3 linked regions of the Homo sapiens genome follow. The protein of the gene in region 3 purifies or fractionates together with the protein of the main gene of each other region. This does not show direct contact. Each region holds a gene or a part of one and is shown on either strand. Other genes may lie near its edges. The genes, in order: INTS6, FBXO21 and SLC22A24.

Evidence for each region.
Region 1: the proteins of SLC22A24 (region 3) and INTS6 purify together in Homo sapiens (affinity purification with mass spectrometry; one large-scale study listed by BioGRID and IntAct). This does not show direct contact.
Region 2: the proteins of SLC22A24 (region 3) and FBXO21 purify together in Homo sapiens (affinity purification with mass spectrometry; one large-scale study listed by BioGRID and IntAct). This does not show direct contact.

The regions. Positions count from the first base shown.
Region 1 is NC_000013.11:51,376,522-51,380,177, reverse strand, and holds part of INTS6 (integrator complex subunit 6), read left to right. Parts: intron 1-605; coding exon 606-716; intron 717-1,723; coding exon 1,724-1,939; intron 1,940-3,656. UniProt on the Homo sapiens protein: Component of the integrator complex, a multiprotein complex that terminates RNA polymerase II (Pol II) transcription in the promoter-proximal region of genes.
Region 2 is NC_000012.12:117,173,411-117,177,066, forward strand, and holds part of FBXO21 (F-box only protein 21), read right to left. Parts: intron 1,388-3,656; coding exon 1,241-1,387; intron 932-1,240; coding exon 795-931; intron 1-794. UniProt on the Homo sapiens protein: Substrate-recognition component of the SCF (SKP1-CUL1-F-box protein)-type E3 ubiquitin ligase complex.
Region 3 is NC_000011.10:63,141,972-63,145,727, reverse strand, and holds the start of SLC22A24 (steroid transmembrane transporter SLC22A24), read left to right. Parts: upstream 1-1,506; 5' UTR 1,507-1,948; coding exon 1,949-2,350; intron 2,351-3,756. UniProt on the Homo sapiens protein: Renal transmembrane organic anion/dicarboxylate exchanger that participates in the reabsorption of conjugated steroids including estradiol-17beta-D-glucuronide (or 17beta-estradiol 17-O-(beta-D-glucuronate)), androstanediol glucuronide (or 5alpha-androstane-3alpha,17beta-diol 3-O-(beta-D-glucuronate)), and estrone 3-sulfate, as well as bile acids taurocholate and glycocholate, driven by an outward gradient of dicarboxylates such as glutarate or succinate.

The sequences.
Region 1 (3,656 bases), on a different chromosome or scaffold from region 3:
TTTCAGCTCAGCATATGATAATAATAGTAATGATTAATAATTTGTACCCAATGGTTTTATAAAGTGCTTTATGTGTATTAACTCATTTAATCCCATGACAACCCTGTAAGAGTAGGTATTGTTATTATCCCCATTTTACAAATGAGAAACTAAGCCACAGAGAGCCAGAGAGCTTATTTATAATCTGATCTAGAATCATATAACTAGTGAGTGGTTGAGCAGCTAATTACTCAAAAGTAGAAATCTTGCATTTTCCTTGAGTGTTTTTCACTTACTACCCATGTTTTATCAGAGCTACCTCTAGAATGTGTCTTCTGTCCATTTATTCCAAACCTAGTTTCTCCCAGTGGTACCAAGGAAGACCAGTATCTTATCCTTCTTGTCTTGGGGAGTTATTATGGCCTCTAATCCTTTTTAACTACTTCAAACGGCCTTTCATCCCACTGACAAACATTTTACTGAAACATAAATACGATTGTGTTACTTCCTTATTGAGGAAAAGAAGGGGAAATAATTTTTTGGAGAAAATTTTAAGACAGACTATACATGGAACCATAAGTTTTTAATAAGCTTAATATTGAATGATGTTTTCTTTTTTCCTATAGCCCTTGAAGAAAGCTGTTAGGATGATGGGAGCACCTAACCTAATAGCAGACAGTATGGAATATGGACTTAGTTACAGTGTCATTTCATACCTCAAAAAACTGAGTCAACAGGTAATATCAAGAAATAGAGTGAGCCATTAAGTATTTTGAATGGTTTTGGCTAGGATGGTTAAACAGGTTAAAAGCTAGTTCTTGATGGTTCTAATGGAATTCCATTATATTAATATATTACATTTTAGAGCCATATATTACATAATTCTGTCTCACATCCATGGTGTGCTATGTTTTGAAACATTAATTTGAAAATTATATAATAATTCCTAATTTATGAAAATGGCTTCATGAGTGTGGTCCTAGACTTGCTATATGTGAACATTATTTATCTTTTGAGAAATTTAGATTAGAAAGTCATTTTTCCTTAAAAAAGAAAAAAAAAACTCTTTATGTTTTGAAACCTGCAGATTTTTCTTTCAGAATGGGAGTTTCTTTGAAATGTTTGTAGAAAACACTGAATTTTGTCATTCTGGCCATAAGTCACATTAATAAATACTATAGTAGTCAAGCAGTATATAGTTTAACTGACTGTGAAATTATTAATGTCCTATGAAATACATTATTTCTCCAGTACTTCTGACATTGCTACCTTAACTACAAATCAAAAGGCAGTTTGGGAGGAGTCAAAACATTGCTTCTTGCTTTCCAGGGAAGAACTGCATAATTATTTGCCATATTGATGTGCTAGTAAAAATGTCTTACATAATGATGATTTTAAAAAAATAATTTACCGTCACCCCTGAATTGGGAATACACATTTTTGTTTAGTGTGCATTTATATTTCATGGTTTAGGTATAGTGGGTATTAATAAATAAAATAATAAATTGAAATTGTGTTTGTCCTGCTCCAAAAGTTTAGAGTTGTAATGATTTAAAATCATAAGACATTGTTGTTTAAACTATGTTTAATTTACCCAATACTTGACATAAACTATGCTACTTGAGTTTTTAACTTCTTATATACTTAAAAAATATATATTTAATTTATAGAAGATCATAACCATTAGTATCTGATTTATTAATTTAGATTTTATCAAGATAATTCTGACTTATTTTTACTTTAGGCCAAAATAGAATCTGATCGAGTCATTGGATCTGTAGGCAAAAAAGTAGTACAGGAGACTGGAATAAAAGTCCGGAGCCGATCACATGGTTTATCAATGGCATATAGGAAAGATTTTCAACAACTCCTCCAGGGAATTTCAGAGGATGTCCCTCACAGACTGCTAGACCTTAATATGAAGGAATACACTGGGTTCCAAGTTGCTTTGCTGAATAAGGTAATAATCATGAATTTAGTGCTACTCTAGTTATGTTCTGTTATGTTACTGGATAAATCACATTTTCTGTTAACTCTGACATTCAGTTTATCCAGACTTTAAAGAGTACTTCTGTACTCTTGTAGACTAATGATCATTATACTGTCACTGCTAGAATTAAAACAGTGTACATGGTGTGTGAATGAATGGATAGATTGATGAAGAGTAAACTAACTTGTTTATTTTATAGATGAGAAAACAGAGGTTTAGAAATTGCTTTAAGTTGCAGTAGTGGATGGTAGAATTCACTATAGTTTTGTACTTAAACTGATGACCCTATTAGACCCACAGCATGATCCAAAAATGCTTTGTGAGTACTCATGGTTACAGATATCTTTATCCCAGCAGCCTTTTTGTAGAAATAGGCAAGCTGATTCTAAAATTTATATGGAAATGTAAAGGTCCTGGAATAGCCAAAACAATTTTAGAAGAATAAAGTTGGAAGACTTATATCATCTGATTTTAAAACTTATTGTAAAACTTACTACAGTGATCCATGCAGTGTGGTGCCATCATAAGGATAAACATAGGAGATTAGTGGAACAGAATTGAGTCTAGATGTAGGCCCTCACACACACAGTCAATTCTTAACAAAGATATTAAAATAAGGTAGTGGATAAGAAGACAGTCTTTTAAACAAATGGAACAATTGGATATCCATATGCAAAATAATGAATTTGACCATTACCTCATATTATTTGAAGTGGTCGTGATCTTAAATGTAAGAACAAAAACTATAAACTTCTAGAAGAAAACATAGGAAAAAATCTTTGTGATGTTGAGTTAGCAAAGATTTCTAAAAGCACATAGCAAAAATGTTGATAAATTGAATTTCATTAAAATAAAAAATAAACTTTGCTCTTTAAAAGAAACATTAAAAATGAAGAGGGAAGCTACAGCTTGGGAGAAAAGCACATATCAAATAAAGGACTTGTATCAAAATATATAAAGAATTCATATAACTCAATAATAAAAGGACAAACATGGGCAAAATATTTGAACAGACATTTCACCAAAGAAAATATGCAAATACAAATAAGAACATGAAGTAACACTCAGCCTTATCAGCCATTAGGGAAATGCAAATTAAAACCATAACGAGATACTACTTCATAACTGCTAGAATGAATAAAATTTAAAAGACAAAAAATACAGGGATTGATGAGAATGTGGAGCAACCCTCCTAACATTACTGATAGAAAATAGTTGATATTTTCTTAAGAAGTGTAAACATAAATTTGCTGTACAATCAGTCATTCTACTTGTAGGCTTAGCATGCCAACATGGCAGCATTTTTCATAATAGCCAAAAACTTGTAACAGTCCAAGTGCCCATCAGCTGGTGAATAGATAAAGAAGATGTGGTGTGTCCATATAATAGACTACTACTCTGGAATAAAAAGGAACAAACTACTGATACATGAATAATGTCAATGAATCTCAAAAACATCATGCTAATTGAAAGAAGCCAAGTACAAAAGATTAGACGTTGCAAAATTCCATTTATAAAATGGAGCATAGAAAGAAAGCAAGTCACGTGGTTGCCTGGGGATAGGAATAGTGATTGACTGCAAGTGGGTACAACAAACTTGGGGATGGTGGAAATGGATTATGATGATGGTTTCACAACTATAAATTTACTAACATTCATCAAACTATATACTTAAAATAGGTGATTT
Region 2 (3,656 bases), on a different chromosome or scaffold from region 3:
TATTTAAGACTGTTCCAAGGAAAAGTGTGTACGATATAACAAAATAAAATGAAAGTAGCAGACAGGGCAACAAACTAAATATGAAAATGGAACTAGGCAGAAAGCAAATAAAAAATAAATATAACAGATGCAAACTTGACACAGCTGGGCCACAGGTTCTCCCAAATGGCTAGAGGCCAGTGCAAAGAGGACCCTGATTAGTTTTACAGTTTAGTGTTCACAAGATACAAACTGACCAAACAGAGTCAGAGAAATATCTATTTTTAGTCAAAAATTTATCTCAAGGGTTTGCATATGGAGGATACTCCATGAGGAAACAGATAAACTCCACAACAATATCCTTACAGCAGAAGGAAAAATAAGTTTCATCGAGCACTCAGAGATGGAAGGCATAGTACTGACCTTCAAGAATGTACGGTCCATCAGAGAGAAGCTTAAAAAAATACATATAGGATGGGCACAGTGGCTCACACCTATAATCCCAGCGCTTTGGGAGGCCAAGGCAGGAGGATCACTTGAGGCCAGGAGTTTGAGACCAGGCTGGGCAACATAGCAAGACCTCATTTCTACAAAAAATAAAAAATTAGCCGGGTGTGGTGGCATGTAGTCCTAGCTACTCAGGAGGGTGCGGCGGCAAGATCGCCTGAGCCCAGGAGTTTGAGGTTGCGGTAAGCTATGATCGCGCCACTGCATTCCAGCCTGAGCAACAGAGCGAGACCCTGTCTCTAAAAACAGAAAAAAAAAGTTACTATACCTATATTACTATACCCATATATTACTGTACCTATATTTACCTGATGCATATATAAGTTGAGGGCATTATAGTAATCCATTCGATTCCCCTTGAACTTCAGTTGGTCGTAAAGGACATAGTTCATGGCATCCAGCACCTGGCTCTGGAGTTCTATTTCCATTATCATGGATGATTCACCTGAAACACAGAGATCTACTCTGGGACCCAAGCACAAAAAAGGTTGTGACAGGTGCCCCAAACAACTCACAACATGAAGACATTGGCAATGGCCTAACAATATTAATCAAGTGTTGCCAATCTAGGAAGCAGAAGGCAGTATGTATTTGAAGTGTTTTAGGTTCAACACTTCAACCAGGTAAACACGTGGTCACGTCATTTTATCACTTTTTCATGACATAATGGCAGCACACTAACAAATCTCTCAAATTAACCAATTCCTCTAGATTTTCTTTCATAAATACAGCTGGATCCAAAGCAATGCCACACCTGCCTTGAAGGCCAAGCTGGGGTGGCGACTGTTTATGCCCCGAAGGGTTTTGCAAACAAGCTCCACGATGCTGTCAATTTGGGCCTGGATGTCTTTGAGGCTGATGTCGGAGAGAGGATTGCAGTACTGGTCAATATATACAGCACCTGAAAATGAACAAGAATTACCGAATAAATTCTCACGTTACCCTTTTCTTATTAGTTTGCAATTTTACCCTGGACATCCTGGGACATGGCTCTTTACACCATCCCACTGGACAAGCTTCATGTTTTGGCCATGGACCTTGCTGCTAACACACTGAGAAGGAGCAACAAACATTTTCATAACAAAGTAGCTTTAACTTTAAAAAAAAAAATACATAAATCAAACTTCTCTCAGAAGTCATGGACTAAAAAACTGCGTGGTATATGGCGCAGTTTCATGTTCTATTACAAAGAGAAGTAAATGACATCAAGGAGATCTTTTCAAGCTACTTCTCTCTCCCTAGCTGTTATAGGTTCCAAATCCAACAACTCTGAAAACTTAATGGTATAAGGCAGTTCCTTTAAAAAAACAAAACAACAAAAAAAAACAACTTGAAAGCCCTCCATGACAGATGTGCCATTTCAACAAATTACACATCTCAAGGGTGAACAGTAAATGGATTCTGGAGCTAACCCCACTTTCCAATGAGATAAACAGTTATGCTCGGGGAACCTACAGCTGAAAAGCTGTGCAGAGCACACTGCAGACAGTCTCTTAAGAATCACTCCTCTTCACAGTCTTAGGTAATTTTGGAAGCAGAGACTGAAGGGCTAACAGCATCATTTGGGTAAGGACACCGTTATGTGGGAAGCTCTCGAGTCACCTTAAATTAAAGAGATCTCAGACCAGCTCAGAACCTGGACTCCCTTACCAATGCTCCAGAGCTCAAAGCAGTTGAACGGGTGTCAAGACACCTCGACCCCAGTCCCAGTGTTGCCACCAGCCAGGGACTGTCTCCTCGGCCTCCGAGGGCCCCAGCTTCCCTACCTGGAAGCTGAAGCAGTTTATGCTGCACATTTCTGAAGTCCGTTCCTTCCTAATGCTATGATTCCCAGACTTCTTCGATGGCATCAGCATTATTCCAGTCAGTCACCAAGGATCAGAAACTTGGAGAGCCAACTGTCATTCACTCAACTACTAAACAACTTCCAATGGCTTCTCAATGCTTATGACACTGATGTGGAAGTTCTTTGAAAATTATAACTTTGTATTTAGAAAATGAAAAAGGAGTATTTGTTTTCATACATAAGCTACAAAAAAATATACTATTCTTAACTGTGAAATAAACAGAAGATAGGATGCTTCTCAACTCCAGTATACAAATGAGGGGATTCTAGCAGTGAGAATTTATTTTAATCAACTGAAACAGATGTTTCATTTCCTTTTGGATGATACTAGGTTTTCATACACTTGATAAACATTTACACTAAGCATTGTGAGGTATACAGTGATCCTAACACAAGGACCACAACACGGGAAGCTTAGGGACTAGTTACAGAAACAAATGTATACACAGGAAACAGAAAAAATGCAAGACAGCTTACTATTAAATGCTACTGTAGCTCTGAGGTGAGTAAAATCTCCAAGTAGTCAGTGGAAATTTAATGGAAGTGAGGCTTGAGCTGAATTATGGAGGGGGAGTAGGATTTTCAAGAGGGATTATGAGAAGGAGGGATATCATGAATGAGGAAGTGAAGCCAGGTGTATTTGTGGGGCACCAGTCTAGACAATGGCCTGGCTGGAGCAAATGGGACATCCTGGAGAGTACGGAGCAAAGGTCTGGACCAGATTATGCAGGGCATTGAAAAGCAGGTAGAGGTTAAATATAAAAGGGAAATCAGTTGTCCACATTGCAGGTTTCACATGCAGTGGTGAAGGCTAGATTTCTAATGGGGCTGGCACTGGTATTTTGGCTGACTTGGAGGGAAGGGGGGGTAATGTTCATGAAAGCAAGTATTACTCAGAAAGTTGTTGCCAGGAGAGGTGGCCATAGACTGCATGAGACTAGTTACAGAAGCCAGCCAGGTGTGGTGGCACTTGAGCACGGGAGTTTGAATCTAGCATAGGTGACATAGCAAGACCCCGTCTCTAAAAATAAATACATTTTTTTTAAAAAAAGGAATAGTAACAGAATGGGAACATGACTATGAGATACACTGGAATGGAAAAAAAAATCAACAATCTGGTAAAACATCAGAAGTAGGGAATAAAAGTAAACGACCAGTCATATTTGTATTTCATAACCATAATTTATGGGAATGTTTGTGTAATATTGTAGGAATTCAAAATCATTTTAAAAAAAATGGAAGTCTCACTTTGTTCCTGTTCAACTTAATAAGAACAAAAAGATTCTCCACTCCCTTCATCTTGCCTGTCCACTCAACTTCTTCC
Region 3 (3,756 bases):
ACCTTCTGTTAAGTCTGTGGTATTTTGTTATGCAGCCCTAGTGAACTAAAACATTTCTAACAATTTACAACAAAACCCTGTGATGTATTAGATTTCCTGTTTGGAATAGATCCATGAAAGTCATTTCCTGAACAGAGAATCTCTGCAGGCTGGACAGGAATCTGCTTTTTTTTTTTTTTTTTTTTTTTTTTTTTTTTTTTTTTGAGACAGAGTCTTGCTGTGTCACCCAGGCTGGAGTGCAGTGGCACAATCTCAGCTCACTGCAACCTTCACTCCCAGGTTCAAGTGGCTCTCCTGCCTCAGCCTCCTGAGTAGCTGGGATTATGGGTGTGAGCCACTGCACCCATCCAGGAATCTGCATCTTAAGATGTTTCACGGGTGACCAGTTTGAAATTCAAAAATAAGAACTTCTTGTAGGCAGAATAAATTCTGGAGATTCTGTTTGTTTCTTTGGGTTTCTTTTTAATCAACCTGTCTTTTCCCATTATATCCGTGCATGCTATTTAGCTGCTAGCTTTTGAATATCCTTGTAGGTACACAATTATGCCACACCTTTAACTGTAATTGTGTACTTATTATTCCCTCATTTAAAAATTGACTCTTGCAGTCCCTCATCCACTGCTTCATTATCTCAAGAATCTTCCCACAAGAGTAGGTCAAGCTGGCTGGGCATGGTGGCTCATGCCTGTAATCCCAGCACTTTCAGAGGCTGAGGTGGGCAGATCACATGAGGTCAGGAGTTTGAGGCCAGCCTGGCCAATATGATGAAACCCCTTCTCCATAAAAAATACAAAAATTAGCTGGGCATGTGGGTGAATGCCTGTAATCCCAGCTACTTGGGAGGCTGAGACATGAGAATTGATTGAACCCAGGAGGTCAAGGCTGCAGAGAGCCAAGATCCCACCGCTGCACTCCAGCCTGGTGACAGAGTGATACTTTGTCTCAAAAAAAAAAAGAGTAGGTAAAGTTAATTTGTAGAGGGATGACTCCCCTGCTCCATGGCATCTATCCAGGTATCATTAAACAGTTTCTCCTTAATCTTCCATAGCACACTGTGTATCTTCCTTATAGTTATATGATGACATTACAGTACAATTATTTACAAACCTATCATTTATATGAGACATTGAGCTCAAATTTTATTTTAAACTTATAAATAAATATATGTAAGTTAACATTGCTTTATTTACAGCAATAGCACCAGAAAGCCCAAAATGATATTTGAATGAATCAATAAATCTGGTGAAATATACTACTATAATACATAAAAGCACTATTTCCTTTCTCTTTGTTTCTTATCCTAATTTCCCTATTTTAAAAAATCTTTAAAGCCCTGTCATTGGTATGACTTGAACTGAAGCAGAACTACACTTAGCAAAAGTCAATGTTTAAACTCAACATTCCACTTTCCTTTAACTAAGAATAGTTTTTATTAACTTTTAGTAAAACTCAGTCCTAGTCCAAAAAAAGCCCTGCTCTCTGATCTTTGTACAAGAACATCATAAAGCAATTCACTTTGGATTTTCTAATATCCCATTTCTAAGAAGAATGGCAGACTATTGAACAGGTGTATTTTAGGTCACGTGGGGACTGCATCCACCTGAAAATCCACCGTTGACTTATCAGGAAACTCAGAGATCAGGATCTTTCACAGAGTAGTCTTTTAAGAAGATTCAGTTGTCAACAGCTAGCAGTCTCTTTGCCAAATAATTATATCTGTGACTTCTGAAACTATTTGGCTGCCTAAAGTTAAAGGACTTGGGGAAAGTCCTTCCACTGCTCTTCTGCAGTAGTGTCACACCACTCAGTGCAGGGCCCACCAAGAAGAAAGCAGTGTCAGGATCCACATGGCACTATGGTAACTTTGTGAAAGGGGACATTTTCTCCCTCTGAACTTCTCTTCATAAAGTCATTGTGCTTCCTCTTGGGGATCACCTGTTCAGTCTCAATGGGCTTTGATGTGCTCCTGGATCAAGTGGGTGGCATGGGGAGATTCCAGATTTGTCTGATAGCTTTCTTTTGCATCACCAACATCCTACTGTTCCCTAATATTGTGTTGGAGAACTTCACTGCATTCACCCCTAGTCATCGCTGCTGGGTCCCCCTCCTGGACAATGACACTGTGTCTGACAATGATACCGGGACCCTCAGCAAGGATGACCTCCTGAGAATCTCCATCCCACTGGACTCAAACCTGAGGCCACAGAAGTGTCAGCGCTTTATCCATCCCCAGTGGCAGCTCCTTCACCTGAACGGGACCTTCCCCAACACAAATGAGCCAGACACGGAGCCCTGTGTGGATGGCTGGGTGTACGACAGAAGCTCTTTCCTCTCCACCATCGTGACTGAGGTAAGAGGCCCCATGTAAATCTTCTGTTTATATGATTAAAGTGTTTGGAGTTAACACAAAAAAATTGACTTGCTTTATACCTTTAGTCCTTAGATGGGACCTGCAGTCAGCTCATTCTTCATTCCTTTAGCAGGTGGCAGCACCTGATTATCTATTAATACTCTACGATACAGCCAAGTGTATTAGTATTATATTGGTGTAAAAGTAAATTGTGGTATTAGACCATGAATTTTAAATCATTATAACTAGGCTCAAACACATCTTTATTAATCAAAATAGGAACCATTACAATCAACACATTTTTGGCAATGAGAAATAAGTTTGTTAATTCTGTAACATAAATATCCACGCTTTGGGATTTGACAAATTTTTCTGCATTCTGCTGGTTGTGAAAGTGTTTCTCCTACAAAATGTTGTTGAGATACTTAGTTTTGGTTGTTTTTGTTTTTTGCTTTTTGTTTTTTGAGGGAGGCCAGAGTTTTATTACTACTCAAATTAGTCTCCCTGAGCATTCGGGGAGCAGAGTTTTTAAGGATAACTTGGTGGTTGGGGGGCAGCCAGTGAGCCAAGAGTGCTGACTGATCAGGGCTGAAATCATAGGGAGTCAAAGCTGCCTTCTTGTGCTGAGTCACTTCCTAAGTGGGGGTCACAAGATCAGATGAGCCAGTTTATCGATCTGGGTGGTGACAGCTGATCCATCAAGTGCGGGATCTGCAAAATATCTCAAGCACTGATCTTAGGAGCAGTTTAGGGAGGGTCAGAATCTTGTAGCCTCCAGCTGTGTGACTACTAAATGATAATTTCTAATCCTGTGGCTAACGTTAATCTAGTCCCCAGGCAAGAAGGAGGTCTGCTTTGGGAAAGGCTGTCTTTGTTCAAACTATAAACTACAAACTAAGTTTCTCCCAAAGTTAGTTCAGCCTATGCCCAGGAATGCACAAGGACAGCTTGGAGGTCAGAAGCAAGATGGAGTCGGTTAAGTTAGATCTCTTTCACGGTCTCAGTCATAATTTTGCAAAGGCAGTTTCAATCCCTCCCTTTGGGTTTTATAACACCTTAATCTTAAGATGTAGGCTATGAAGACGGGAAAAGGCCATCTATCACTCCAGCTTCTTCCTGCTGACAGGGGACATAATGGGAATGGGAGTGAACCCCAAGGTGAGAAGAGTGGAACTGCTTTGCTACTGAGTGTATTCATGCAGGCCTGGATGGGCTTCCAAGGCTTGTGTGGCAAAAATATTAGTACTCTCATCTATAGTTTTAGTACAGTATTTAAATGAAGAGCATGCTATAAGGTAAATAATGAGTCCTAGGATGAGGAGTACAATTCCCAATTTTAAAAGCAAAGATTGGAAAGCATTTGTCTGGGGCCTTCTAACTCACAAATAATTTAGAATTTAGTCTAA